Homo sapiens: one gene and its partners. The protein of the gene in region 2 interacts with the protein of the main gene of each other region in a biochemical or structural test. Each region holds a gene or a part of one and is shown on either strand. Other genes may lie near its edges. The genes, in order: PAQR4, KEAP1, AMER1 and MCM3.

Evidence for each region.
Region 1: the proteins of KEAP1 (region 2) and PAQR4 form a complex in vitro, tested with the Homo sapiens proteins (one study listed by BioGRID).
Region 3: the proteins of KEAP1 (region 2) and AMER1 form a complex in vitro, tested with the Homo sapiens proteins (2 studies listed by BioGRID).
Region 4: the proteins of KEAP1 (region 2) and MCM3 form a complex in vitro, tested with the Homo sapiens proteins (2 studies listed by BioGRID, with this or other methods).

Annotation. Positions count from the first base shown.
Region 1 is NC_000016.10:2,965,313-2,972,357, reverse strand, and holds the start of PAQR4 (progestin and adipoQ receptor family member 4), read right to left. Parts: upstream 3,011-7,045; 5' UTR 2,684-3,010; coding exon 2,518-2,683; intron 1,202-2,517; coding exon 980-1,201; intron 844-979; coding exon 410-843; 3' UTR 1-409. Other genes in the region: KREMEN2 (kremen protein 2 isoform d precursor), read right to left, coding at 4,338-4,548, 4,754-4,832, 4,913-5,038, 5,116-5,448, 5,563-5,716, 5,909-6,033, 6,127-6,218. UniProt on the Homo sapiens protein: Plays a role in maintaining adipose tissue function through the regulation of ceramide levels. Mediates the stability of ceramide synthetases, CERS2 and CERS5, and their activities.
Region 2 is NC_000019.10:10,493,349-10,500,368, reverse strand, and holds part of KEAP1 (kelch-like ECH-associated protein 1), read left to right. Parts: intron 1-288; 5' UTR 289-335; coding exon 336-974; intron 975-7,020. UniProt on the Homo sapiens protein: Substrate-specific adapter of a BCR (BTB-CUL3-RBX1) E3 ubiquitin ligase complex that regulates the response to oxidative stress by targeting NFE2L2/NRF2 for ubiquitination.
Region 3 is NC_000023.11:64,202,697-64,210,615, reverse strand, and holds the start of AMER1 (APC membrane recruitment protein 1), read left to right. Parts: upstream 1-4,907; 5' UTR 4,908-5,046; intron 5,047-7,919. Other genes in the region: uncharacterized protein LOC112268307, read right to left, coding at 3,576-3,634, 4,532-4,597. UniProt on the Homo sapiens protein: Regulator of the canonical Wnt signaling pathway.
Region 4 is NC_000006.12:52,267,729-52,274,748, forward strand, and holds part of MCM3 (DNA replication licensing factor MCM3), read right to left. Parts: intron 6,189-7,020; coding exon 6,014-6,188; intron 5,629-6,013; coding exon 5,502-5,628; intron 4,775-5,501; coding exon of another isoform or gene 4,724-4,774; coding exon 4,573-4,723; intron 1,499-4,572; coding exon 1,358-1,498; intron 279-1,357; exon of another isoform or gene 241-278; coding exon 137-240; intron 1-136. UniProt on the Homo sapiens protein: Acts as a component of the MCM2-7 complex (MCM complex) which is the replicative helicase essential for 'once per cell cycle' DNA replication initiation and elongation in eukaryotic cells.

The DNA of each region.
Region 1 (7,045 bases), on a different chromosome or scaffold from region 2:
TCAGGAAGACTGGCCACAGGCCTGGTGGGAGGAACAGGATAGGGTGAGGAGGCTCTGGGCTGGCGGCCTGGCAGGACTTGAACTCTCAGAGCAAGACGTGACCCCAGAGTCCCTCTCTGGTCTAACCCCACAGGTCACAGAGGGTAAAGAGGTCCCAAGAGGGAAAGGTTTCCTTCCAGCTGACACAGTAAAATAGGAGCTTGGAGGGAAAAGGCAGGGAAGGAAGTTGGAGCGCCACGGCGTGGGTGGAAGAGGTCAGTCCACAGGGAAGAACGGGTGAACAGGGCTCCTGCTGAGACATCTCATGAGCTGGAAGCATCCAAGGAGCCAGCCCCTTGCAGACGAGTTGGGAGGAACACCTGGTGTTGCTAACTCTAGGAGGCTGCTGTGGGCAGGCTGGCATGGCAGCTCAGTCCCGGGGACAGGCGTGGTGGGCAGCCCAGAGCAGGTCGGGCACGACGCCGGCGTGCAGCTGCAGGATGGAGCCCACGCTCAGCAGGTGCATGATCTGGTGGGAGTTGCCCCAGTAGTCAAAGCGGCCAGGTCCCCAGCGCTCGGGCAGACGGGCTACATTTACCAGTCCCCCAAGCAGCGCCAGTGCGTCCATGCGCAGGTAGCAGGGCAGGGAGCCTGGAGCCCCTGAACCCAGACCCACTCCCCGGGCCCCAAATACCAGTAGGCGGGCAGCAGCCTGCCATCCAAATGCCCGGAGCCGAGCACTGGTGGAGGGGGCGGTGAGAGCACGCCAGCCGGCCACACCCGACAACACAGTGTAGCCCACCAGGGCAGCCGGGCGCAGCCAGGGCCTGCAGGCCAGGGTGCAGTGGATGATGGGCAGGGCCCCTGCACAAGAGGAGAGAACAGGAGAGGGCATGTCATTGTGAGGGTCCACCCGCCCTTCCCTACCCATGGCTTGTATGCGTGCCCCATGCCTCTCCCGCCGGTGGCTCCAGCTCCCATCCCTTGGGCCCTGACTCACCAAGGGTGTTGACAAGGCAGACCCCACACATGTCCAGGGCGAGGAGCCGGGCGTACACAGCGCTGCCCCCTTGGTGGCACATAAAGAGGTGATAGAGCACGGAGCCTGCAGGGGGTGCAAGGCAGGCCACGCAATGTGTGCCTCCCAGCCAGCCATCCTTGCCCAGCTGACCCCAGGGCATGGTCATTGGCACCAGCACCAGGAAGCCCAGCAGGGCCAGCCCTAGGGAGGGAGACAGTCATCTACCAGATAGTTTCAGTCACATCCTCAAGGGGACCACGGTTCAGACACAACACAGGACAGGGCAAGACAGGTCCAGGTAATGCTGTCATCCAGTTGGCGGCCTGGCCTTGGCCAGAGACAGGCCCTGGGCAAAAGGCTTTTGGCACTGGTTACTTATCATGGCTCAGGATGGTCTGGGAAGTAGAGACCATGATCCCCACTTTGCAGGTGAGGAAACAGACTTGGAGGGGCTGAGTGACCGGCCCCGGGTGAGCCCAGCAGGTAAGCAATGGCAGAGGACAGGCCTAGGCCGTCCCACTCCCACACTGCTCTCCCCATACAAGCAGGTCACAGGAGAAGGCTAAGGCAGCGAAACCTCAAGTTGAGTTGTGAAGAGGACACATGAGCAGTGATGCCAGCCCGGGGCCACTTGGCTTGCTCTTCCCAACCCAAGTCCTCCCCTCTCCATAAGTGTCCAGACAAATGGAGGCACTGGGCCTTTTTATCTTCTATAAAGGGGTGAGGCCAGGTGGGGGAAGACAAGTCCAGAATGAAGGGAAGGGGGCTTCGAGGGGCTTGTCCCATCTCCCCAGACCTCTCCCTGGGGAGTTTGATTCCAGCCTAGCCCTTTCTGGGAGGTCTCCACCCCTCCCTGCCGGCCTCTAGTACTGGCCTCCCAGGGGCCAAACGGGGCTCCGAAGGCTGCCCACCCTTGTGAGAATGTGGCCTGGCAAAAGCTCGGGAAAGGCACCCAGGCTGGGCCAGGCCGCTCAGGGCCCCTTGCCCGCCTGGGGCAGCTCAAGGACGGGCAGGGCTGTGTCAGCAGAGCTCCGCGGGGCGCGGAGGAGGGGCCGGACGCCTGTTGGGGGAAGAAGGAGCCGCCACCAGGCGGAGCCCCAAGACAGAGCGGCTTGGGGCGGGGGCGTCAGGACGGCGGCGCTGGGAGGCTCCTCCCGGGCCCTCCTCATCGCAGTCAACACCATCTCCCGGCTGGGTGCTGGCGGGAGGGGGTTCCCAGGGCGCTGGGATTACAGAGGCCGGACACCATGCTCCCTACCCCTGGGGCTCAGAGGGATTAAGCAGGCTCAGACCCTACTCTGCTCCCCTCTCCTGACCCGGCCCCCACCCGCCGGGAAAACGGAAGCTGGCAGCGCGGCCCGGGACAATGGCAGCTTTGTCACCGCGGCTACTGGCGGTGCCAGGGCCGGGGCAGCCCTGGACTTGGGCGCTGGGGCCCTCCTCGGCCTCAGTGCCCCCGGCCCAACGCAGGTAGGGCGGCCGGGGGTGTGGGAAGCGCGTTGCGGGACGCGGCTCACCGTGCGTGTAGATGTTGCCCAGTTCGTTGTGCAGGTAGAAGAGGCTGCGCAGGCAGCCCGAGCCGCTGCTGGCGGGCCGGTACCCGGTCAGCACGAACTTATTGAACTGCAGGTGCGGCGGCGAGCTGGCCCAGTCCAGCAGGCGCGGCCCGGCCAGGAACGCCATGGTCCGCACCGCGCGGGCAGCCCGTGCTCCTGCTGTCCCCGAGCCTCCTCCTCAGTGGGGCCGCAGCGCGGGAAGGCCCATCACTGCCTGGCGCCCGGCGCCCGGCGCCCACCCATCGCCCTGCGCTCGATCGGCGCACGCGCTGGCTAGGGGGTCCCAGCCCGCGCCCCTCCGGCGCTGCGCACGCGCGAGTCCGTCGCCCCCGCGCCGGGGCGGAGGCTGGGGACGCACCGGACGCCTGAGCGCACTGCGGTCGGCTCCGCCAAGGCAGACGCGCCGCAGGGACAGCTCGCGGCGGCGGCGGCGGCGGTGGCCGGTAGTCTCTCTGCAGCCAGGAGGACGGGCGCGGCCGGACGCGGGAGGGGACGCCAGGCTCCGCCCAGGCTCCTAGTTCCCGCCGGCCGGCCAGCGTTTCGCGCGCCGGGCTCCTGACGTCGGCGCAGCGAGAGCCAATGGGCGTGGCCGGCGGGGAGGCTCCGCCCCGAGGCCGCCCAGGCCTCGCCTCCTAGCATAGTGTGCGCGCTCCCAGCCTCATTTGCATGGGGTGGCTGTGGGCTTGCGACCCAACGTTCTGGGTCCTGCGGGCTGCGCTAGAGTGACCCTGGCACCTCGCGTCCCTCAGAACTGTGCATCCGGGCTTTCCGCGTGACACCCAGGTCTCCGTACCTTTGGGCACCCACCCTCGGGGGCATAGTCCTGCCACCTAGCCCTACCCTGCAGACGGGGCTCTGTCCAAGGTGCTGCCGGACGGGTCCGGCCTACATCCGGTACGCCCCCGCTCCAAAGTGATCTTTCCGCAGGCTGGACTCCCGAGTGCAGCAAGGCGCTCCACGGTACCCAGGCCTCTGAAGGCGTGCCTCACGCGCCCGCAGCCGTCGGGAGAGGCCCTATCCTTCGCGCTAGGCTTCTCGGAGCGTGGGCCCGGCCCAACTTGCTCCCAGTTATCGCCCACAAGGAGCACCCTTGCGGGGCCCTACCGAGGATAGACAGGAAACAGATTGGAGGCCAGGGGAGCAAAGTCGACCTCCGCCCCGTCCACCCTGAGCAGGGACCGGGAAGGCACCCCTTATTCAGCATAACGCTGCCCACGATCCTCCTCCCCTTCCACCCCCCGCCTTCTACAGGACTCCACCCACCCACCCATCTGTCTGTGTTCTAGGTCCTTCTCTGCATTCCAGGCAGCTCCACCAAAGTCTGCGTGCAACGCCCTTCATTTGCATGGACACACGCAACCCTCGGCGTTTGTATGGTCATTAACATGCTCCTCCCACCACGGAAGAACTTTCGAGGCCCGTACCAAAGTAGATCCTTTATTCAAAATCTGTGGGGGTTTTTTGACTGTTTTTGCTGACCTGTGACCTCTCACTGAGGACGGCAGTCCAGGACCACCCCCAGAGGGGTTCAAAGACCTCCGAAACCAGAGACCACCCCCACATACAGGTCCATGGAGAGGGCCTGGACCATCTGGACCCCCACGGTCAGGCCAAGTCCCAGATAATAGCACCAGATGTTTCCTGTCCGACTTTTGGTCTCCCCAAGGCGACCAGAGGCCGAGCTGCCCCTACACAGGCGCAAGGCCGAGGCAGGGCGCAGCACAGCATCTCAGGTGTCCATCTCGCCGGCGGCGGGCCCAGCGGACCCTCGGGGCCCAGAGTCAGAGAGCGGAGATGAGCGAGCGCAGGGAGCTCTGGCTGGAGGCACTCAGAGGCCGGTAGCCCGCGGCAGAACCCTCAGCCTGGGGGTCCCCGGGGGAGCAGGGCAAGGCCACCCCTCGGGGCTGTTGGTACCACACAGCCCAGCTTCTCCTGGGGCCCCTGGAAGCCCCCAGCGCCGGGGGCCCTTTTCCCGGAGCCAGCAGACAGCTCCTAGAGAGGGAGCAGACATCAGCCGAGCCGGTCCAATCCCGCTGCAGCGTCCTGCTCTACCTGCGATCCCGCGCGCGATCCTGTGCGTGGACCCAAAGCCTCGCTCCCTTAAGAACCCAGGAGTTCCTTCCTAGCTCTGTTCCCTTCTGGGGCTCCAGCTCCCCACCACCGGTCCGCCCTCAGGCCCTGCCCCAGCGCCCCGCACCGTCGGCGCAGCGGACGCAGCAGCCCCAGGAGCAGCAGCAGCAGCACCGAGACAGCCGTCACCGTCGAGAAGACCCGGGCTGCGGGCACACGGCTGCGGTGAGGATGGGCGCGAGGGGGCGGCTCCCTGACTCACTCCCGTCCCGCGCGCCCGCCTCACCCCCAATCGCGGCCGGCGGAGCCCCAGGCCTGGGGCTGCAGCTCACGTTGGCCCCGTCGAGGGGCGCCGCGGGGGTCTGGGCCGAGCCCTCGGGGGCCTCTGGGTCCTCAGCGGCGTCCTGCAGCCCTGCGGAGAGGGGCGTGAGGCGGGGTGGGGAGAGCGGGGTGGGAACAGCGGGCAGGGCGCGCCGAGCTGAGGCTCACCGCGGTAGGTGAGCGCGAAGCCTTGCGCGTGGCCGCGCGCGTCGCTTCGGAAGGTGAGCAGCAGCGCGGCAGTGCCCAGGCGCAGCGGCCCGGACGGCGGTGGGCGGGCGCCATCGAAGGCGCGGAGCAGGCTGCCCGAAGCCGCGTCGCGCAGCTCCAGCCGGTCGCGCGGGTCGGCCAGCTCGAAGAGGCGGAAGGTGAGCTCCAGCGCGGCGCCTGGCGGGCCCAGGGCCCAGCTGCAGTTCCGGTCCGGCCCGTACTCGTCCGGGAAGTCCGGGGAGTAGATGACGCCCTGAGGCGCTGTCCAGTTCCCCTGGCAGGAGCCCACCGACACTGCGGGCGGGGCCGGCAGTCAGCATCCTGAGGACCAGGACACGGCGGCTCCCCTGCCCGGCCAGGCCCCACCTCGAGGCCCGCCCAGGCCCCTGGTCCCCGCCCACTCCTCACCTTCATAGACGCCCAGCCGCCCATCGCCGCCACACAGCTGTCCAGGGTGGCCGAAACAGATCTGGTCACAGTCGGTGGCGGGGGCCAGGCGTCCCCGGGCCAGGTCGCTTTCAGAGCCACAGAAGCAGGCGTAACCGGCCTCCACGCCCGCCAGCTGGGAGCACAGACTGGGTGACCCCAGGGCAGGGGCTGGGGTAGGGGTGAAGTGGTGGGGGCCTGGGGTCGGGGTGGGAATCGGGCTGGAGGTTCAGAAACCGGTGTCTGGGTTTGGCAACCGAGTGTTGGGAGTTGAGTGTGGTCTTTAGGTCCAGGTCAGGGGTCACTGGTCTGGGCCCGTGAGCAGTACCTGGTACCCCTTCATGCGGCAGAAGCGTAGGCACACCTGGACCGTGAGCTTCGTGGAGGTGCCGCTGGGGCCGCTGAGGGCTGGGGGTGCCCCTGAGTCCACAAAGCATCCCAGGTAGCCTGGCACTGAGGGGGCAGAGTCAGACTTCCGTGACTCCGAAAACAACCCTCCTCCCAGATGCAGCAGCGTTCCCACCTCTGTCCAGCCGCGCTACTCACTGTGACAGGAGGGGATGTCGCAGTAGCGCCAGTAGATGCCCTCCTCTGTCTCAGCCACGTAGCACCACGGCTGCACGTCACCGTCTGGGTTACTGCGGGTGGGAGGGAGGTGGTGGGGCTCCCACCACCCCAAGAATAGCAAACCCAGGCCCGGCCCCGCAGCCTATGCTCAAAGTGGCCTTCAAGGCTCTGTGCCTGTGAGCGGCTGTGCTGCCTGCTGTACACCCACAAATTCCAGTTTTGTCTACGCAGAACTCTGCCTGATGAAGGAACTGGACGTCGACTTCCGAGTGGACAGCGGGAAGTCATTAAAGGGGACTTGAGAGCTGTTTTTAGGCTTCAGCTGTTGCTAGACTTGACTCCATATATGAGGACTTTGAGGCCATCTGTATTCTTCACCCCCACCCGGCATGGGCCTCAGCCACTTCCGTCCCTCAAACCCCACTTTTTTTTTTTTTTTTTGAGACGAGTCTCGCTCTGTCACCCAGGCTAGAGTGCATTGGCGCGATCTCTGCTCACTGCAAGCTCCGCCTCCCGGGTTCAAGCGATTCTCCTGCCTCAGCCTCCTGAGTAGCTGGGATTACAGGCGCCCGCCACCATGCCCCGCTAATTTTTTGTATTTTTAGTAGAAATGGGGTTTCACCATGGTAGCCAGGCTGGTCTCGAACTCCTGACCTCAGATGATCCGCCTGCCTTGGCCTCCCAAAGTGCTGGGATTACAGGCTGAGCCACCGCGCCTGGCCTCCAACCCCACTTAAAAGCAGAAGTGAGCTCCTGAGCTTTGCGGCTCTCCTCCCGCTGGGTCCATCCTGCCTCAGACCGTAGCTGTGGCTCTGAACCCCAAAATAAGTTGTATGACAAGAGCCCCACTCTGACAAGGCCCCGCCCATTCGGCCCCCGCTCTGACCAGGCCCCGCCC
Region 2 (7,020 bases):
CGTAGGGCTTTGCAGGCTGTTGAGGAGTTCAGTTTTACTAGGTACTGTGGGAGGCATTGGAGGATCCAGAGCAGGGGAGAGACATGACTTCATGTATGTTTTAAGATGGGCTCTTGGGCCAATCAGGTTGATCAGGTCGGGGAAGTTTGCAAGTTTGCAAATGGATTCTGCTTCACCTACTTTGCAGGAAAACTGACCTAGGAATTGCTTTATCTTGCAAAACGAGGCCCGGCAGGTGCTGGCCCAGTCCCAACCCCTGCCCTCTGCCCTGTGCTCTCTCCCCTCCAGGTCCCTGAGTGCCAGAGGTGGTGGTGTTGCTTATCTTCTGGAACCCCATGCAGCCAGATCCCAGGCCTAGCGGGGCTGGGGCCTGCTGCCGATTCCTGCCCCTGCAGTCACAGTGCCCTGAGGGGGCAGGGGACGCGGTGATGTACGCCTCCACTGAGTGCAAGGCGGAGGTGACGCCCTCCCAGCATGGCAACCGCACCTTCAGCTACACCCTGGAGGATCATACCAAGCAGGCCTTTGGCATCATGAACGAGCTGCGGCTCAGCCAGCAGCTGTGTGACGTCACACTGCAGGTCAAGTACCAGGATGCACCGGCCGCCCAGTTCATGGCCCACAAGGTGGTGCTGGCCTCATCCAGCCCTGTCTTCAAGGCCATGTTCACCAACGGGCTGCGGGAGCAGGGCATGGAGGTGGTGTCCATTGAGGGTATCCACCCCAAGGTCATGGAGCGCCTCATTGAATTCGCCTACACGGCCTCCATCTCCATGGGCGAGAAGTGTGTCCTCCACGTCATGAACGGTGCTGTCATGTACCAGATCGACAGCGTTGTCCGTGCCTGCAGTGACTTCCTGGTGCAGCAGCTGGACCCCAGCAATGCCATCGGCATCGCCAACTTCGCTGAGCAGATTGGCTGTGTGGAGTTGCACCAGCGTGCCCGGGAGTACATCTACATGCATTTTGGGGAGGTGAGCGGGGAAGTGGGGCTGGGGGCAGTGTCAGGAGAAGGACCAGGGATGGACGAGTGCTCATCACTGTCTCCCCTTGAGATGTCAAGGCAGGAAACTGGAGAAAAAGGAGGTTCTGGGCTGGGTATGGTGGTGTAGTCTCCACAGTTTGAGGGGCTGAGGCGGGGGGATTGCTTCAGGCCAAGAGTTCAAGACCAGCCCAGGCAACATAATGACACCCTGTCTCTAAACAAACAAACACACAAACAAAAAACAACTGGGGCCGGGCGTGGTGGCTCATGCCTGTAATCCCAACACTTTGGGAGGCCGAGGCAGGTGGATCACCTGAGGTAAGGAGTTCAAGACCAGCCTGGCCCACATAGCTAAAACCCATCTCTACTAAAAATATAAAAATTAGCCAGGCCTGGTGGCGGGCGCCTGTAGTCCCAGCTGCTCAGGAGGCTGAGGCAGGAGAATCGCTTGAACCAAGAGGTGGAGGTTGCAGTGAGTGGAGATCGAGCCACTGCACTCCAGCTTGCGCAACAGAGCAAGACTCAGTTTCAAAAAAAAAAAAAATTAAAAAACAACTGGGGTTCTGAGTTCCTTGTCTACACATGTGGGGAGACTGGTGAACAGCTGGGGAAGGTGAGGTCTTCATATGTCTCTGGGCTCCCTGGTTTCTCTGGGGTCAAAGTGGGGCAGAGTGCAGTGAACAGCAGCCAAATCCTAGGGTAGCCCAGCCTTTCGGGCAGTCAGCAAATGTTTATTGGACACCCGTGACAGGCTGCAAGCTGTAAGTCTGAACCTTAGTCATGTTTTCTTTGGTCCACACAATGTCCTTATACTGTTTTTGGTTTCGTTTTCACATTTCTCAGTGAAGGAAATTATCTATAGAAATTGACAAGAGAGGGCAGGGCCCAGTGGCTCACGCCTGTAATCCCAGCACTTTGGGAGGCTGAGGCGGGTGGCTCACCTGAGGTCAGGAGTTTGAGACCAGCCTGACCAATATGGTGAAACCCCATCTCTAATAAAAATACAAAAAAAGAAAACTAGCCGGGTGTAGTGGCATGTGACTATAGTCCCTGCTACTCGAGAGGCTGAGACAGGAGAATCGCTTGAACCGGGGAGGTGGAGGTTGCAGTGAGCCGAGATCGCACCATTGCACTCCAGCCTGGGCGACAGAGCAAGACTCTGTCTCAAAAAAAAAAAAAAAAAAGCCTGGGCGCGGTGGCTCATGCCTATAATCCCAGCACTTTGGAAGGCCAAGGTGGGCAGATCACCTGCGGTCGGGAGTTCAAGACCAGCCTGACCAACATGGAGAAACCACGTCTCTATTAAAAATGCAAAATTAGCCTGGCATGGTGGCTCATGCTTGTAATCCCAGCTACTCAGGAGGCTGAGGCAGGAGAATCGCTTGAACCCGGGAGGCGGAGGTTGCAGTGAGCTGAGATTGCGCCATTGCACTCCAGCCTGGGCAATAAGAGCGAAACTCTGTCTCAAAAAAAAAAGAAAAAGTTTTTGAAGAGATGAGGTCTTGCTCTGTCCCCAGGCTGGAATACAGTGGTGCCATCATAGCTCACTGTAGCCTCCAACTCTTGGGCTCAAGGAGGCCTCCTATCTCAGCCTCCTGAGTAGCTGGGACTATAGGTATGCAGCACCACGCATGGCTAATTTTTTAGTTTTTAAATTTTTTTGTAGAGACAGGGTCTTGCTATGTTGCTGAGACTGGTCTCGAACCTCCTGGCTTTGAACAATCCTCTGGCTTTGGCCTCCCGTAGTGTTGGGATTACAGGTATGAAGCACCATACCAACACCAGGCCAAGAAGTGTTTATTGAGCACTTGCTGTGGGCCAGCCCCTGTTCTAAGTGATTTATGTCCTTTGCATCATTGACTGTTCCCAACTGTCCTATGAGGCAGTACTACCCTTCAGCCTAGGCAAGCAGGGCAGTGCCCCAGGCCCTAAGCCTTCGGGAGTCCCATGTCTTGGTGTTCCTTCCTGGAAATTTTCTAAGTCCCCCACTGGCTGGTACCAGCTGGGATGGATGTTACACTGATCTCTATTTCTCTCCTTCAGGGATAGATTCTTTCCTACCCTCTATGTTACATGTGGGGTTGATCAGACGCCCCAGGGTTCTCTGGCGTTAGTCCTAGGGCCTGCAGCTTCTAGGAAAGTGGTCTATACAGTAGGAGAAACATATACAGTGTTTCTTTCTTGTGTTTGTATGAACATGGGGTACTAGATTAAAACTGATTACATAGACGAGTGCCTGACAACTTTTTTTTTTTTTTTTGAGACGGAGTCTCACTCTGTCACCCAGGCTGGCATGCAGTGGCACTGTATCGGCTCACTGCAACCTCCATCTCCTGGGTTCAAGCAATTCTCCTGCCTCAGCCTCCCAAGTAGCTGGGATTACAGGTGCCTACCACTATGCCCAGCTAATTTTTAAAAAATATTTTTAGTACAGATGGGGTTTCACCATGTTGGCCAGGCTGGTCTCGAACCCCTGAGCTCAGGTGATCTGCCTGCCTTGGCCTCCCTAACTGTGCTGGGATTACAGGCATGAGACACTGCGCCCACGCCCGCCCCCCACCGCCCAGTCCTTTTTTGTTTTTGAGACTGAGTCTGGCTCTATCGCCCAGGCTGAAGTGCAGTGGCAAGATTTCGGCTCACTGCAAGCCTCCATGTCCTGGGTTCAAGCGATTCTCATGCCTCAGCCTCCGAAGTAGCTGGGATTACAGGGGTGCACCACCACGCTGGCTAATTTTTGTATTTTTAGTAGAGACAGGGTTTCACCATGTTGGCCAGGCTGGTCTGGAACTCCTTACCTCACGTGATCCGCCCACCTCAGCCTCCCAAAGTGTTGGGATTACAGGCTTGAGCCACCACGCCAAGCCCCCTTTTTTTTTTTTTTGGGGGTGGGGGACAGAGTCTCACTCTGTCATCAGGCTGGAGTATAGTGGCATGATCTCGGCTCACTGCAACCTCCGCCTCTCGGGTTCAAGTGATTCTCATTCCTCAGCCTCCCAAGTAGCTGGGATTATAGGCATGTGTCACCATGCCCAGATAATTTTTGTATTTTTTGTAGAGATGGGGTTTCACCATGTTGGTCAGGCTGGTCTTGAACTCCTGACCTCAAGTGATCCGCCCGACTTGGCATCCCAAAGTGCTGGGATTACGTGTGTGAGCCACCGCACCTGGCCTTTTTTTTTTTTTTTTCTTTTTTTAGAGACAGGGTCTCACTCTGTCACCCAGGCTGGACTTCAGTGGCACGATCTCTGCTTATCACAAACTCCAGCTCCTGGGCTCAAGTGATCCTCCCACCTCAGTCTCCTGAGTAGCTGAGACTACAGGCGTGAGCTACCATGCTTGGCTAATTTTTATATCTTTTCTTGGTAGAGATGAGGTCTCGCTATGTTGCCCAGGCTGGTCTTAAACTCCTGGGCTCAAGCAATCTTCCCGCCTTGGTCTCCCAAAGTACCAGGATTACAGGCGTGAGCCACCACACCTGGCTACAAGAAATATTTATCCAGGGCTCTGTATACCCTAGAAGTAGCCTTACTTTGAGGTGGCCATTAATATAATCCCATTTTACAGAGGAGGAAAACCAAGACATGGAGCATTTCAGAGATTTGCCCAAGTTACACACCTACGAAGTGGTCGGATCAAAATTCCAACTCATGCTGGTTTCTTCGGAGCTTCCACTTTTTTTTTTTTTGGAGATGGAGTCTCACTCTGTTGCTCAGGCTGGAGTACAGTGGCACAATCTCAGCTCACTGCAATCTCTGCCTCCTGGATTCAAGCGATTTTCCTGCCTCAGCCTCCTCAGTAACTGGGATTACAGGTGCCCACCACCACAGCTGGCTAATTTTTTTGTTTTTAGTAGAGACGGGGTTTCACCGTGTTGGCCAGGCTGGTCTCGGACTTCTGACCTCAGGTGATCCGCCTGCTTTGGCCTCCCAAAGTGCTGGGATTACAGGTGGGAACCACTGTGCTGGCCCAGAGCTGTCACTTGTTTTTTTCCACAACATTCTATTGTGATTGCTTATTTTTTCCTTTTTTAGTCTATTTGCCATTTTAGAAAATGATTTCATTTTAAAAAACAAGATGGGTGAGTTGGCTCGTGCGTATAATCTCAGTGCTTTGGGAGGCTGAGGCAGGAGAATCACATGAGCCCAGGAATTTGAGGTTACAGTGGCACCTCTGCACTCCACCATAGGTGACAGAGCAAGACCCTGTCTCTTAAAAAATAAACTCAGACATCCCATCTCTACTAAAAATACAAAAATTAGCCGGGTGTGGTTGTGCGTGCCTGTAGTCCCAGCTACTCAGGAGGCTGAGGCTGAGGCAGAAGAATCATTTGAACCCGGAGACAGAGGTTGCAGTGAGCCGAGATCACGCCACTGTATCCAGCCTGACGACAGAGTGAGACTCTGTCTCAAAAAAAAAAAAGAAACAAAAGAGGCCGGGCGCGTTGGCTCACGCCTGTAATCCCAGCACTTTGGGAGGCTGAGGCAGGCGGATCACGAGGTCAGGAGATCGAGACCATCCTAGCTAACATGGTGAAACCCCGTCTCTACTAAAAATACAAAAAATTAGCTGGATATGGTGGTGGGCACCTGTAGTCCCAGCTACTCGGAGGCTGAGGCAGGAGAATCGCATGAACCTGGATGGCAGAGCTTGCAGTGAGGCAAGATCGTGCCACTGCACTCCAGCCTGGGCGACAGAGCGAGACTCCATCTCAAAAAAAAAAAAAAAAGAAACAAACAGAAAACTCAGAGGCCAGGCGCGGTGGCTCAGGCCTGTAATCCCAGCACTTTGGGAGGCCGAGGCAGGCAGATCACCTGAGGTCAGGAGTTCAAGACCAGCCTGGTTAACACGGTGAAATCCCGTCTCTACTAAAAATACAAAAACAAAAATTAGCCGGGTGTGGTGGTGGGCGCCTGTAGTCCCAGCTACTCGGGAGGCTGAGGCAGGAGAATGGCGTGAACCCGGGAGGTGGAGCTTGCAGTGAGCCGAGATTGCACCCCTGCACTCCAGCCTGGGCGACAGAGCGAGACTCCATCTCAAAAAAAAAAAAAAAAAAAAAGCCAAGCCAGGTATGGTGATGCACACCTGTAATCCTCAGGAGGCTGAAGTAGGAGAATCATTTGAGCTCAAGAGTTTAAGACCAACGGCCGGACACGGTGGCTCATGCCTGTAATCCCAGCACTTTGGAAGGCAAGGGGGTGGGCCACTTGAGGTCAGGAGTTCCAGACCAACCTGGCCAACATGGTGAAACCCCGTCTCTACCATAAAAATATGAAAATTAGCTGTGCGTGGTGGCACACACCTGTAGTCCCAGCGACTCAGGAGGCTGAGGTGGGAAGATCGTTTGAGCCCAGGAGTTCAAGGCTACAGTGAGCTATGATTGTGCCACTGCACTACAGCCTAGGTGACAGAGCAAAACTGTGTCTCAAAAGCAAAAACAGGCCAGGTCCGGTGGCTCACGCCTGTAATCCTAGCACTTAGGGAGGCTGAGATGGGCAGATCACCTAAGGTCAAGAGTTCAAGACTGGCCAGGCGAGGTGGCTCACGCTTGTAATCCCAGCACTTTGGGAGGCCGAGGCGGGCGGATCACGAGGTCAGGAGATCAAGATCATCCTGGCTAACACAGTCACCCCGTCTCTACTAAAAATACAAAAAATATTAGCCAGGCACGGTGGTGGGCCCCTGTAGTCCCAGCTACTCGGGAGGCTGAGGCAGGAGAATGGCGTGAACCCGGGAGGTGGAGCTTGCAGTGAGCCGAGATAGCGCCACTGCAGTCCGGCCTGGGCAAAAGAGCGAGACTCCATCTCAAAAAAAAAAAAAAAAAAAAAAGAGTTTGAGACCAGCCTGGCCAACATGAAGAAATGCCATCTCTACTAAAAATACATAGTGAAACTCCGTCTCTACTAAAAATAAATACAAAAAAATGGCCGGGCGCGGTGGCTCACGCCTGTAATCCCAGCACTTTGGGAGGCTAAGGCGGGTGGATCACAAGGTCAGGAGATCGAGACCATCCTGGCTAACACGGTGAAACCCCATCT
Region 3 (7,919 bases), on a different chromosome or scaffold from region 2:
GAGCTTCCATTTTCATGATAAGAAAGAGAAAATTTAAAAATGACTCTAAAATAAATAACAATAAAAAATATACCAAGAGGTGGTAAATGCTGTGGATAAGAAAAAAAGGCCTATTAAAGAATTGGAGAGTGAAGGGGGTGGAAATGGGGATTGCTATTTTATATATCAACTGTTCAGTGAAGGTGTCACTATTAATGACATTTGAGCAGCCACCTGAAGGAAATGAGGTGCAAACTATGCCAATATTCAGAGGACAAACACTGTAGGCAGAGGGAGCAGCCAGTGCAAAGGCCCTGAGGTGGGATTTCTGACAAGTCAAATTCAGTATGTCCTAAACAAAATCATTTTTTTTTTGGAGACGGAGTCTCGCTCTGTCGCCCAGGCTGGAGTGCAGTGGAGCGATCAAGGATCACTCCAAGTTCTGCCTCCCAGGTTCATGCCATTCTCCCGCCTCAGCCTCCCAAGTAGCTGGGACTACAGGCGCCCGCCATCACGCCCGGCTAATTTTTTGTATTTTTAGTAGACACGGGGTTTCACCGTGTTAGCCAGAATGGTCTTGATCTCCTGACCTTGTGATCCGCCCACCTCGGCCTCCCAAAGTGCTGGGATTACAGGCGTGAGCCACCGCACCTGGCCACATTTTCCTAATTCTGTTCCTATATTACTCAGTTCAGTGGATGACAACACCATCCAGCAGTCCCTTGTCCAAGTAAGAAACTCAGGAGTTTTCTTCCTCTTCCACTAGACTGGTTGCCCTTGAGACCAGAAGCTGTGTGTAGTCCATCATTCTGGGTAATGAGTGTGTCACTTAACACAGGGCCTGGCACAAAGGAGATGCCCAATGAGTGGTAACATCACACTTCATTGGTGGATGCTGGCACTTAAGCTTGATATTAGGCCTGAAAATGCCTCATTTCATGTTCAGTAAATACATACTCATCAACAAGTTTCTGCCAAACTCTCTGTTGAGTGCTGAGGATATGAAGATGAACAAAATATTCTGCCCTGGGAAACTGAGTCTGGGTCTGCACAATAAAGTGAGTCTGTTCATAAGGAATCATAGGCTCATGTGTGTTTATATTAAAAACTGGTTTCGGCCAGGTGTGGTGGCTCACGCCTGTAATCCCAACACTTTGGGAGGCCAAGGCAGATGGATCATGAGGTCAGGAGATCTAGACCAACCTGGCTAACACAGTGAAACCCCGCCTCTACTAATAATACGAAAAATTAGCTGGGTGTGGTGGCAGGTACCTGTAGTCCTAGCTACTCGGGAGGCTGAGGCAGGAGAATGGCGTGAACCCGGGAGGCGGAGCTTGCAGTGAGCCGAGATCGCTCCACTGCACTCCAGTCCGGGCGACAGAGCGTGACTCCGTCTCAAAAAAAAAACCAAAAACAAAACAAAAACTGGTTTCAAAGTCATATTAGCAGTTCCATAACTTTGAAGATCTGTACATTGGATCAGAAGGATAGCAATAATAATAACAGCATCAGTAACTAACATTTATTGATACCATCTTATGTACTAGCCTCTGTGCCACTTCATATGGACTACTCAATTCTTACCACAATTCTCTGACATGGGTGCTATTATTTTCATTTTGCAGAAAAAAATGTTGAGACTCAGAGAGGTAAATTGACCTGCCCAGATCATACTGCTCCTAAGTGGCAAGCTTCACATCCCAGCCCAGGCAGTCTGGTGGCAGAGCCACTACAACATACCACTTTCCTGGAAAAGATGAACTTAGCTAGTTGAGCCTCAATTTACCCAGGCAGTCATGGTCTTTTACACTTTGGCCCCAGGCCTTTCTTTCTAGTCTAATGTCCAGCTCTTCCTCTCCCCACCACACAAATACTTAGCCACAGCCATCCAGAATTGTAGCTCTTGCCCAACCCACCATACCCTCTCACTGATGGGCTTTGGCTTGGGCAGGAATCCTTCCCCTACTTTTCTGACTTGACCCAACCGTCAAAGCTATCCTCCATAGAACTTTTCTCTGATACCCCTTGCCACCCTGGGGAGAAGGAGTCTCTTCATCTGCAATGCTCCAGAACACCTTTGCCAGACCTCTAGTGTAGATTTCAGTTCCTCTCAGAACTCCATACCCAGGTGCCTCAAAAAGGTTAACACTGTACTGCTTCTCCCAATAACTATCAACAGGCCTGGCATAGAGGAAATGACTATGGAATACTTGGTGAAGAAAGAAATGAGCATTGTAATGATGTGCCCTGTAATGATGTGTCTACTTGAGTTTATGAAGTTGCCTCCACACAGCCCACACATCTGTTCTTATGGGCTTTTCACCGCAGCCACAAGACACTAGGCAGCACGAGGATTATCTCCATTTTGCAGGTAAACAAACTTAAGAAAGATTTCCAGCTCCTCACAACCAGTGCCTGTCTTGACTAAGCAAGTTGACCACGTGTCAGTCAGCATGTGGAATGGGGTCTTACAGTACTCTCTCTATGAGGAGGCATTTTGAGGTGCAAGTTTATGCACACACTTGGTCTTTCCATACATCGTCCCTGGAGAGAAGTGAGCTATGCAAACAAGAAGCTGTGTTGTCCCCTCCCACATCTTTTCCCCTTTAATACACACATACAGTATCCTCCCAAGACTCAGTAATATCTGGACCATAAAGAAGGGTGCTCAGCTGGGAGTTCTCTAGGATCACAAAGAATATTTTTTTTCCTGAAGCCCCATTTCTTTTGGGTTTAGCTCAATTTCTCACGAATTGTTCCTCCCACACTAGTCACTCCAAAAACTGACTGGTGTGACAGAATGTTTGGTGGCTGGGCAGAAGGCATAGAAGACTAGCCCCTGTGACAGGAGCAGCACAATAGTGCCTGGGACTATTTCAAGCCTGCCACCTGACTACTTTGCACACCTCCTCTCTCCCTGCTTCCACAACTGAGACTGCTCTGGCCCTTTGTTTCCCTGGACCCCAGGTTTGCAAACTGCCTTCTCATAATCTTAGTCTAATTCAAAGAATCAAGGTTCTGAGTGAAATGTGAGCAAGTGGCAGTGACCAGAGGCACGAGGTAGGGAGGAAGTCTATAATGGAGATTCTGGAAAAGAAAATAAACTTCCAAATCAGGCCCACAAATGAGAATCAGGACTTTGCAAAGCAGGAAAGCATAGCCCCAGGGAAACTTTTATAGTCCAGCCATCCAGATGGGAAAAAAGTTGCATAATGAGCCAGCAGCAGCTCCCTACTCCTCATCGTTTATTTAGACTCAGTACTAGGATGGGAGTCTGATGTTCAATATTGATTTTTGTTGGCAATGTATAGAATGCCATGGAAGGTCATGGAACATCTATATTTTCTATAATATTCCGTGGAAGATCATGGAATATTATAGAAAAAAATGAGTTGAACTGTCAGATCTCAAAGATATCAAGGGAGCCTGATGATGCTTACCCTCTCCTTGTGGAGGTGGGGTGATGCCCTGGCCCAGAGAAAAAAATGAATTGGCCAAGGTGTCCAGCAAGTCTGAGGTAGAGCTAGAGTCAGATCCCTAGCAGCCATGTCAGTTCCTGTGCTCTACACATGCAGAGGCAGCAGTCCACCTCTTACCAGTTCAGCAGCTGGATCTTTTCAAGACTGTCAGGACCCAGAAGCAGCAGAGAACACTCCTGCAATGCAAAAATAGCACGCATTGTTCTCTAATCCTTCTCTCTATCCTCAGCTTTAATCCACCCACCTCCCTTTTTAGACACACACAGAGTTTTAGGGCTGGGCCTTCTGGATATTCTTGAACTAGTGGTGGAACTAGATTCTTTGCTGCCTCAGCTCACCTGGCCCTGGCAGCCACTGATGCCACTTAATGTCCTTAGGCTAGAGACCCAAGTTCGCCGGGCTCCCTGCCACATCCCACACACAGTAGCAGACAAGGCTGGTACAGGCCTCCTCACTTTGTCCTCAGCCTGACCTCCGGTTTGGGCCCAGACAAGATTTTCCTCTCAATATTTAGACTTTTCAAGGAAAAAGGCCTGCCGAAAGCCAGGCTCACAAAGGATGGGGGAAGGGGGACTCTGGAGACCTTGGGGATTCCCTCCACATTCCATAGAAGGTGCGAAATTTGGGTGAGGGTCAAACTATGGAAACAGGTATCATCTCAGAGAAGAAAAGTGAAAGCAATCCTGGAAAGGGAGCCCGGGGCTCTGGATTCCAAATTGGCCCTTGTCGCCGGCAGGCTGGGTAACTGTGGGGAGGGACTTTCCCCACTCTGGGCAGCAGAGGGCCCGTCGGTAACGGGTGGAAGTTGGCCTCTATGGTCTCTAAGGGCACTGGTGTGCCAGAGAGGCGGACGAAGTTAGGGCGCAGGCGCTGCAGCTAGCTTTCCTGGCAGGTGAGTCCCTCCTCTGGGTGGCCTGGCGGCGCGATCCGCAGGGCCTTGTCTCTACGACTAAGGATAGGCCGGCCCTTAGGTTTCTGCAGTCTTCCCAGATTCCTCAACCTCTCTGCCTCGTTACTCCCCGCCGGCCTCTAGCTCAGGAATAAACGTCCTGGTGGCGGCCAGGGCACAGTACCGCGAATGCACAGCGGCCACAGAAATGGGAGTGCGTGAAAACCGAAACCGATCCGGCGAGCCCCATCCGGGCAGGACTGGCTCCTTGAGGCCACGGTGTAGCCACGCCACTACCAGCCCGGCGTGGGGGCGGGAGTGGGGAGCCCCAGCCAGTGGTTCCGCACCCTCTCCGCCCCCTGCCAACACCACGCCTGCACTTATTTGCATTTAAAGAGAAACGCACCAAGGAAAACAGTGGGCGGGCCGGGGCACGCCTTCCCACCATAGCGATTGGGCCATATGCCTGCCAATCAGGACGCAGATGCCCCACCCGGTGGCCTTGGAGTACTGGGGGAGGGGGTATGGGGGAGCTACCCAAAGCCTGGGGAAGGGGAGTCAGTGCTGGAGGTGACTGGAGCCGCGGCGACGGCGGCAGCAGCTGCGGTGGCGGCGCTCTCAGCCGTGGCAGCCGAGGCTGCAGCCCGGCCCAGGGCGGCTCAGCGGACAATAACCGGGCTAGGAACCTGACCGGGCTGGGTAAGCGTTGCGTACAGCCAGGAGCCTCCGCCTGCCCGCGGTCGGGTGCATTCCCGCGTGCTCTGCTCCTACGGACTGGAGGAGGGCACTAAGGACTAGGCGGGTCGGAGTCCCGGTCGCTCGCCCCTCTCCTTTGGAACCCGCTTTGCGGACTGTCGGGTGGAGAGGCAGAGCGGCCTTGAGTCCCCTGGGCACAAGCGACCACGGCTGGGGGGAGGGGGGTTGGGGAGGGCGGGTAGGAAGGCAGGCTAGCCTGGGCCAAGCCTCCCGGCTTTCGGGGGGGCGGGGATGGGCCCGCACGTGCTGCCGCACAGTCCCGGGAAGGGCGCCGCCAGCCAGCACCCCAAGCCATGCATTTGTAGGCCAGGAGCTCTGCAGCTTTGTTGTAGCACATTTGCTGGAACAGCTGTGTAACGCGGGTACCGCTCACCCCTCTCTCCGGCTGCCTGGCTGCCGCCCCTCCCCTCCCCTGTGCATCTCCAGCCTCTCCCTCCTTTCTGCGGACTCAAGCTGGCGTGCTGGCTTGGGCCCGACGGAGACCGGCTTTGGCGTGGATTGGGACATCCACAGACTGCCCCCTCCCCAGAGGAGCTCAGTTGGGCCTGTGGGCTGAGCTCAGTCGCACACTTCCCTTCAGAACCTTGGCCTTGTGGCCCCAACTAGCCGCGCCCCTCCTCCTGGGCCTCCGGGCGCATCTGGCGCCCGCCCCCGCGGTCGGGCAGGCTGGCTGGCAGCCGGGCTCTTGCTGGTCCTTGGGTTAGAGCAGCGGCGCAAGCTAGTCCTTGAGTTAGAGCTGCAAGGCCGCTTTGTCTCCCGCCTCGCCTCGCCTCACCTCCTTTTCCCTTGGAGGATACTGGCCGCGTTTTCCTCTCCAGCCTCCCGTTTAAAAATAGCAATAGGCACGGTGTTTGGGGGGCATTTCCTTGCCAGAGGCCGAAGGAGCCCTCATTGTAGTACGGAACGTATCATACCATCTCTGTGTACAGGAGAGCTAGCGAGGTGGCCAAACCCTCCAACTTCGCAGTTACTTAACATACCCAGCCCGCCAGGCCCCTGTCATTGTCTGCTGGAGACACTTCTGACACTGGTGACCGCCCGAACGCTGGACTTTGCTTGGCTCCCCCGGTGGTGAGGGGCTGTGCCCGCTACATGCGTCACAGCCCAAGCGCCTAGGCGGCAGCTGGACTGGCCCCGCAGAGCTGGTCTCCGTTTGGCCAGGCTGCTTTCGGCAAGGGCCGCGGGGTCAAGGCGAGCCTTGTTCCACACACAAACATCTTCCTCTGCGGCTCTGCCTGCCTGCTGCAGCGGCGTGGGCATGGGCAAGGCAGAGGGCACTGCACTGTTGGACTGCCTGCCCCACCGGGATTCCAGCAGAGCCCCCTCCCCCAGTGTGGCTCCCCTCATTCGGCACCACCCACTGCACAGTCACTGCACCATGGTGCACCTCTGGCAGTGGGCTCTCTAGGCCTTTTTGAGGAATAGGACAGAGGAAGCCACTGGGGGCTTGGTAAGCTCTTGGACCTTTGATTAACCTCTGGTGTGGAGAGCCCTGTGGGCTGCAGGGCCCAGGCAAAGCTTGGGCACTTTGAGGAGGGGCAACGAGACCCAGTAAATTCCTCACTTGGGGGAAGGCTAGCTCTGGACCTTTATGACAGGAGCCAGGACCACAGATATCACACTACAGTCACCTCCTCCCACCTTGATTAGGCCCCAACACAAACCTCTACTTGCAGCTGGGCATCTCTAGCCCAGGGCTGGACCTGCCCTCTGCCTTGTCTCAGGCCAGCAGGCACCTAATGTATCTGCTCTATGTAACTCCCTTCCCCACACCCAAACCCACTCAGCCTACACCTGTCCAAATCTTCTTCCTTCTCAAACCTCAGTTCTGGGCCTTCCTTTTCCTTGGTGCCTTTCTGCCTGGCTCTTGCCCACCCATGGTGACTTCTTTCTTCTCAGAACTCCTCCAGGGCTGCCTACTTCTCCTGGGCATATTCAGGCTTAAATTATAATAGGATGCAGACTATAATTAAGTTGGCCTGCCTCTGTTTTGTCTGATATCATGGATGTCTGGGTTCTCTCAGAACCCTTTGGAGGAGTAAATAAAACCTGGACCTCAGCCACAACCCTCTCAAAGCCAAGCAGTGCAGAGCAGTTAATGATTGTTCCGGAAGGACTTGCTTTCTTTGTAGAGTTTTCCAGAAGACCTTTACCTTTCCAACTTGCGCTTGTCCTGATTCATATGAAAGTGGCTAGAGAAATGATACTCAAGGCTCAGATATGTATTGAGTGTGCCTAATGAGGATGGATTAGAAGGGGGATGATTGCAACTACAAGAAAAAAATCATGATATATCTTCCCCCAACAACAGGCCCAGGATTTGGAATGCTCAGATCCCAGACCATGCATATCTTTGGTTGCTGATTCATGAGCCAAGAGACAAACTACTTGGAGAGAGATGAAAGATCTGTATAAGCAGGGGGATCATCCATGGAAGCTGCCAGAAAGTAGAGGGGTTTAGTAGGCAAAGCATAAGCAGACCCAGGAATGGGAGGGGAGAAAGTGATTGACAGGCAGGGTGAAGGGAGTGAATGAGTCTATTCTGGTTGAGATGGTGTGGCTCAGAGGTAGAGAAGAGATTGAGGCTCAGTGATGGGGTTTCCCGGATGCCAGGCTGTGGAATGGAAATCTGATCCTTTTAGGGGAAGGCGGCATCAAAGAGTAGGGAATTGACAGGGAGTTGCTATTTTTGTATGTAACTAAGCAGTAATAAAAACAAGGTTTTTGAATGAGTTTTAGAATGGGGTCTTAGAAAGGGATCAGAAGCATGCTGCAAAGTCAGCCAGTTAAGAGGTCACCTTTGGATCTGGAAGTAG
Region 4 (7,020 bases), on a different chromosome or scaffold from region 2:
TTTCCCAGGCTGGTCTCAAACTCCTGGACTCAAGTGACCCACCCGCCTCGGCCTCCCAAATTGCTAAGATTACAGGCGTGCACCCCCAACTTCTTGGCCACTAACTTTTTAATCTCATTTGCTTGCCCCACCTTACCTCTTCCTCTTCTGCTCCTGGTCCTCTTGGCTTTTCTCCTCTTCATCTTCTGTCTCTGATTCATCCTCACTTCGCTTCTTACGTTTCTTCTCCTTCTCCAGAACCTAAGACCAAGGCAAGTGTGGCTGGGCTAGAGGGGTCACTGATGCAGGGGAACTGCATCAAGAACTCCCAGTCCCTTCTGCATCATAAGCAGGAAAGACTTCCATGTTTCCAATGGTTTACCTAGCTCCTCTTGTCCCTAAGTCCCAGGACCAGGGGCAGAAGTAGAGACTGCTACCCATCTTTTCAAAATGCTGGGAAGTATGTTAAATGCTGTTTATATAGTAGGTACTCAATAAATGTTTACTGAATAAAGAAACAAATGTCTAGCCCATAATGGTTAAGTGAAAACAATCCATTTCCTTATAAATCAGGTGTCTAATTGAAATCCAAGACAACCCTTAACCTAGCAAAAAGCGAGGAAGAGTTTATCAGACTCACAACTCAACCCTTAACCTAGCAAAAAGCGAGGAAGAGTTTATCAGACTTACAACTCAACCCTTAACCTAGCAAAAAGTGAGGACGAGTTTATCAGACTCACAACTCAACCCTTAACCTAGCAAAAAGCAAGGAAGAGTTTATTAGACTCACAACTCAACCCCAAAAGGCTAACATTCACCAGACTGGGGTGGGAGTGGGCAACTAGGAAAAGGGAGTCTAGGCTTTGAGGCTTGATATCTAAAATGACAGAGGTGCAATGTCACAAACAGAAATAGGGAAACAGGATGAGTGGCAAGTTTGAGAGTTCAACTTTAAACATGAGCTTCTGAGGTGCCAATGGGACATTTGAAGAGACTACCAAGAGGAAAGGTAGAGTGGGACAAGGAAGATTACCAAGGTAGCTCTTTTGAAAACACCTACTTTTTTTTTTAAGATGCAAAGGAAGTAGGGGTAGACAGAGAAGCAGCTAACTGAAAGTACAGCACATCAACTAAACCAGAATCTCTAGGAGCCCTGGAATCAGCATTTTAAAGCTTTCCATCTGATTCTCTGGTGCAGTCAGGGTTGAGAATCACTGAGTGTTTCAGAGGAAAGAGTGAGGCAGACTGATGACTGGAAGACAAATACTGCTTTCTGTTGACAATCCAAATGTAGCCGTCAGCCACGGAAGGCTGGGAAGCCCATGCATCTGTAATATATCCAGGAGATCCTCTCATGCCCAGGCATCTGAATCCTCACCTTCTTAAAGTAAGCATACTGGACCAACTCCACAGCTTCCTCTGCATCCTGCAGGTCCACAGTCTTGCTCATGCGGGCCTTCGCATGGGCTGTGGCCAGTCGAATCAGAGTTTCCAGTGTTCGGGCTGTAACTGGAGATGTCTAGGGAAGAAAAGGGAGGATTGCTTATCCCAAGTCTTTTAGGCATGCCCATCAATCCTACTGCACAGAAAGGGAAATGACACTACCAGAAAAGCCCCAGGAGGCCCAAGCAAAGAATTCAGAGTTCTGTGTTCTCTACAGATACCATATAAAAATGAGAAAGATGATAGCAATGATCAAGGAAATATACACAAGAGTGTTGCAGGAAGGAGGAGCAAGTGAACAGGGAAGATTAGGCATCTAACAACTGGAAAGATAAAAAGCTACAGCGTAGAAAAGAGAAGGGAGAAAAATCATCAGTGATTGCAGGCCTGCAATGCAGCAGGAAGTTTGCCTTTATATACATTCTGTCATTTCACCCTCTTAATAACTTGGAGAAGTTTTATACATGAAGGAAATGGGACTCAAAGACCTTCAAGGAGATTTTCCAAAGTCACACTAAAGGAGGGATAGGAAAGAAGTAATCTGAGGACAAAAACGTAACTTCAGTAAACTCAGTCCGGAGAAGGAGAACTCTGACACATTCCTAACAAATGTTTCTCACAGGGGCCGATGAATACCAAACTGGGATGCCTTTATCTTTTAAAATGCTATTGTCTGAATGGCCTTTCTTGACCTAATCAATCAGAATGAATTGGAAATGAATGAATCAGAAATCTCAGTGTTTAGGACTAGATATGTGTACAAGTTTCAGGTGATTCTGATGTATCCAATCCTCTCATTTTATGGATAAGAAAGCTGACCTGACAGGTGAAAGGATTTGTCCACAGTCCAAAAGCTAGCTGCAGAGCTGGGATCAGACATGAAACTACTTCCAGCCCGGACGTGGTGGCTCACATCTGTAATCCTAGCACTTTGGGAGGCCAAGGCAGGCGGATCACAAGGTCAGGAGCTTGAGACCACCCTGACCAACATGGTGAAACCCCATCTCTATTAAAAATACAAAAGAAAAATTAGCCCGGTGTGGTGGCGCATGCCTGTAATCCCAGCTACTCAGGAGGCTGAGGCAGGAGAATAGCTTGAACCCGGGAGGCAGAGGTTGCAGTGAGCCAAGATCATGCCACTGCACTCCAGCCTGGGCAACAGAGCGAGATTCCATCTCAAAAAAAAAAAAAAAAAGAAAAAAAAAGAAACTACTTCCTTCTGTCACACCTCCCGGGTCTCCCATTATATGACCCCATCACTGACGTATCCTGGTCACTTCTTGTTTCAAGTTTCCTAAATTACCATGTATATCCACAATGACATTCAAAAATAAATACATTCACATTTAAATTCATTCATCAAATCTTGTAATAATTTAGAAAGCTACCGGAGTTTGGAAGTCATACACTCCATGACAAGTTCTAATTCTTAAACCACCTAAAAAGCTGGTGAAATCCTGGCCTGCACTAGCAGACCTAGAGAATCCAAATTCTCTTGGAATTCACTTACAGACCCCACACTAAGACAATTAAAATAGTGTATGACGCTCAGTTCTAGGTTCAATGAGAGGGCCTGGGACACACCAGAAGTTCGCATGTGGAAAGGAACAGTTAAAAAGAAAGTAAGCTGTTTAATGAGGAAGACAGGCGATACACAACCTCCAGAAAACAAGACTAACACCCACAGGTAAAAGTTGTGGGAAAATAGGTTTAAGCTTAATAAATATTCTAAAATTTCAAAACAGTGATGCTCTGCGCATGCTGTCACTGGGGGTATTAAGAAGTCCCGGCCGGGCTCATGCCTATAATCCCAGCACTTTGGAAGGCCGAGATGGGCGGATCACGAGGTCAGGAGATTGAGACCAGCCTGGTCAACACAGTGAAACCCCGTCTCTACTAAAAATACAAAATTAGCCGGGCATGGTGGCACGCACCTGTAGTCCCACCTACCCGGGAGGCGGAGGTTGCAGTGAGCCCAGACCATGCCACTGCACTCCAGCCTGGGTAACACAGCAAGACCGCATCTCAAAAAAAAAGTCCCAGCAGGGATTTGAAAAGACAGAGTGGGTGAGGCTTGAGTAGATGATCTGGGATCATGTCTAATCCAAGAATCTATGTCTATGTAACATAATAAGAGTTCTGGACTTGGGTCTTTCTGCTGTAAAATCCTATGTGAACTACACTGCCCCTAAAAGATTTAGACAAATTTGGGCCGGGCATGGTGGCTCACACCTGTAATCCCAGCACTTTGGGAGGCCAAGCCGGGCGGATCACCTGAGGTAGGAAGTTCCAGAGCAGCCTGACCAACATGGAGAAACCTGGTCTCTATTAAAAACACAAAATTAGCCGGGTGTAGTGGTGCATGCCTGTAATCCCAGCTACTCAGGAGGCTGAGGCAGAACAATCGCTTGAACCAGGGAGGTGGAGATTGCAGTGAGTTGAGATCGCGCCATTGCACTCCAGCCTAGCCAACAAGAGTGAAACTCTGTCTCACCAAAACAAAAACAAAAACAAAACAAAAAAAAGATTTAGACAAATTCATGGACACCTATATTAGGTTACCAGAAATTGCTTTGAATAACCATCATGGTTGCCTGTTAGTCATTTTTTCAAAGTCCAGTCCAAATATCATACTCTCTGGGAATCCTTCCTTGACATTCATACCCCTTCAGGGAAGTCTAAAAGAAATTAACAGTTTATTCGTCTATGCTCAAATAGCCTTTCACGTTCATTCCTTTGTAAGTACCACACTGGGGTAAATATTTATAAATATGTACGGAAGTCTTTCTATCTACCTTTGTGCTTCCCCCGCTCCGGATCTGAGCTCTTTGAAAAGAGTGTTTATTAATTTTACATTGCTTGTAAGAGGAAAGACTAGGTCACTTCCCAGAAGTCACTCCTATGTTTGCTGAATGAATCACAGCTTCTGGAGGCCAATGTCATTTTAACTAATAAGAGACATGTTATCTCTGGGGTCCTTATTTCATTTTCCTTTATAAAAGGAAATGATTAAAATTGTATAACAGGAAGCCCTTCAGACCAGGAAAAAAGTCACTAAGTTAAAATGCTTTCAAAGCTCCCAGATAGCAGGGACTCCTGCCCAGCCATATACCTAAGGGACCCCAAGCCTAGGCTCCCCCAGGCACTCACCCTGGCGGTGTCTGAGCTCATGCTATCCTGGCTGCGCAGGCGTGAATACTCTTCTGCAATGTAGGTGGCCGACTCCTGTGTCAGGACAGGCTTGATGATTTTGGCCACATGGATGTACTTCTTCATGAATGCTGCACTCACCATCTTCTCCCTGGAGCCACACACAGTGAATTCCATCTCCCTGCCACACCTTACCACCTGCCTGGATTAGTGGCTTTGCCTCTCAGAAAAGCCAGGGTCAAAACAAAGCCTAGAACCCATTATCATAACTCCCATTTATATGGAACATAGACAAGACTCTTTCACATATTTTTATTTAATTATTACAGGTATTATTTGTAAGTTAGGTAGTTTAGGCAGAAAGTTTAGGTATTATTTGCTCTATTTTGTAGGTGGGAAAACTACAGCTCAGAGAAGCTCAAGTTGACTAAAAGTTTTCTGACTCCAAATTCTACATTCTTAAACCAACAGCTTTGAAGATTATGCTATGCTTCTTACTGCATCATGGCCAAAAATAGGTGTAAGATCCCACATTTCATGCTTTGAGCACCTGATCACACGTCTCCTTCACCAAGTCTACCTACAAAGTCTCAAATGTTTGCTATCTGCTGACCCTTCATCACAAATGGCTACATGACACTTGCCATCTTTCATATATAAGGCACACCCACCATCAGGCGTATCATCAAAACTCTATTTTAAGAAAAGACCTGAACCTGCGCTGAATCACCTAAACATTTACAAGGCAACTGGCCAGGATAAAGGATATATTGTGGACCCAGAAAAGAAGAAAATTAATCCACGTGGTTATGACTCCAGGCATGGCTTTGACCTGGGCATATAAGGCCTTAGCTAAGCTTAGATATACACATGCTCTAATATAACACATATTTCAGGTTCCCTTGAGGAAGAGTTATGAGAATGCTCACTTTTTCTTCTTGGTCCCATGTAGAAGGTTGTCATGCTTCTCATAAATCTGGGTGTCCTGCTGATCTTCCTGGCTAAAGTTGGGATCATCTGTGGCCAGGATATCCACAGCACTACCCAAGGGCATAGCTGGTATACCCAAGTTAGGAGAAAGGAGAGTAATAAAGAGTTTAACCCAGGGGAAATTGCTTCTTCTATAGCACAAGAAGGGGAGACACCAAGATTCATAAAGAAAGGGCCCAAAAAGAATCAGACACATGGAACCCACAAATAAAGATAGTGGAACTGCCTGGCTCACACAAGATGCTCAGTTATTCCCAGACCCAGAAATGGACAAAAGACACACCTTAGGATACCCTCCACTAAGCAAGAAGGGGAGGTGGCTAAACAGTTGAGGGCTCTTCAACATCAACCCGGACACTGAAACACCTACCACCACCTGGGTTGGGCCTGAGAAACTACCATCTGTTTAGCGCCTTTCCATTAGTTACTCTTACTATTCTTATGGCCTCACCATCGCCATCCTGCTCCCCAGGTGCTCTGTAACGGTGCATCCGAAGGACATGGTCTGAGATCTCCCGATCCTGCTCAGGATCCATCTGATCCAGCATGATGAAGAGCAAGTCAAATCGTGACAGCAGTGAGTCCTGTAGCCCAATGTTCTCCATTGGAGTCTTATACTGGTCATACTGGGGAATGCGAGGACAACAGAAGTGGACATGACATCAATAGGAAGAAAGAACAACAAGGCTGCTGCAGTTCTGGGAGTGGGAATGAAAGGCTTGACCTCAAAGAGCAAAACAGACAAAAAGCAGTGAAAAAGGGAAGTGTTTTAAAGCCATTAAACAATGTAAATCATCTCTTCTACCTGCAACCCTTCTTTAACTGAGCTTCCTAGGAAGCCCCACTTTCTACTACAGGAACCTCTAACAGGCTGAGTGTAGGTCTGAAAACCAGGCCCCTGCTTCCCAAACCTTATTCTGCTCTTCTCATTCCCAAGGCAGGACCTGACTCTGAAAGATGATCCCTTTCCCCTACCTGTCATAAAGACAGGGCAAGTTGGTTAGGCTACAAGCACTTAGAACTTTTTGGAGTCCCTTACTCAGAAGATACAAGTAAAACCTCAACTAAAATGGTCAATGATCTATATATCATAACATCTTAGAAACTGGCCAGGCACATCCACTCACACCTGTAATCCCAGCACTTTGGGAGTCTGAGGCAGGTGGACTGCTTGAGCCCAGGAGTTCGAGACCAGCCTGGGCAACATGCAAAACCCTGTCCCTATAAAAACTTAAAAAGAAAAAAAAATTTGCCAGGCATGGTGGTACGCATCTGTAGTCCAAGCTACTCAAGTGGCTGAGGTGGGAGGATCACCTGAGCCCAGGGAGGTCGAGGCTGCAGTGAGCCAGGATCACTCCACTGTACTCCAGCTTGGGTGGCAGGGTAAGACTATGTCTCAGAAAAAAAAAAAAAAAATCAAGGGAGTTTTTCCTTGGGATTCAAAAACCCCAATACTCT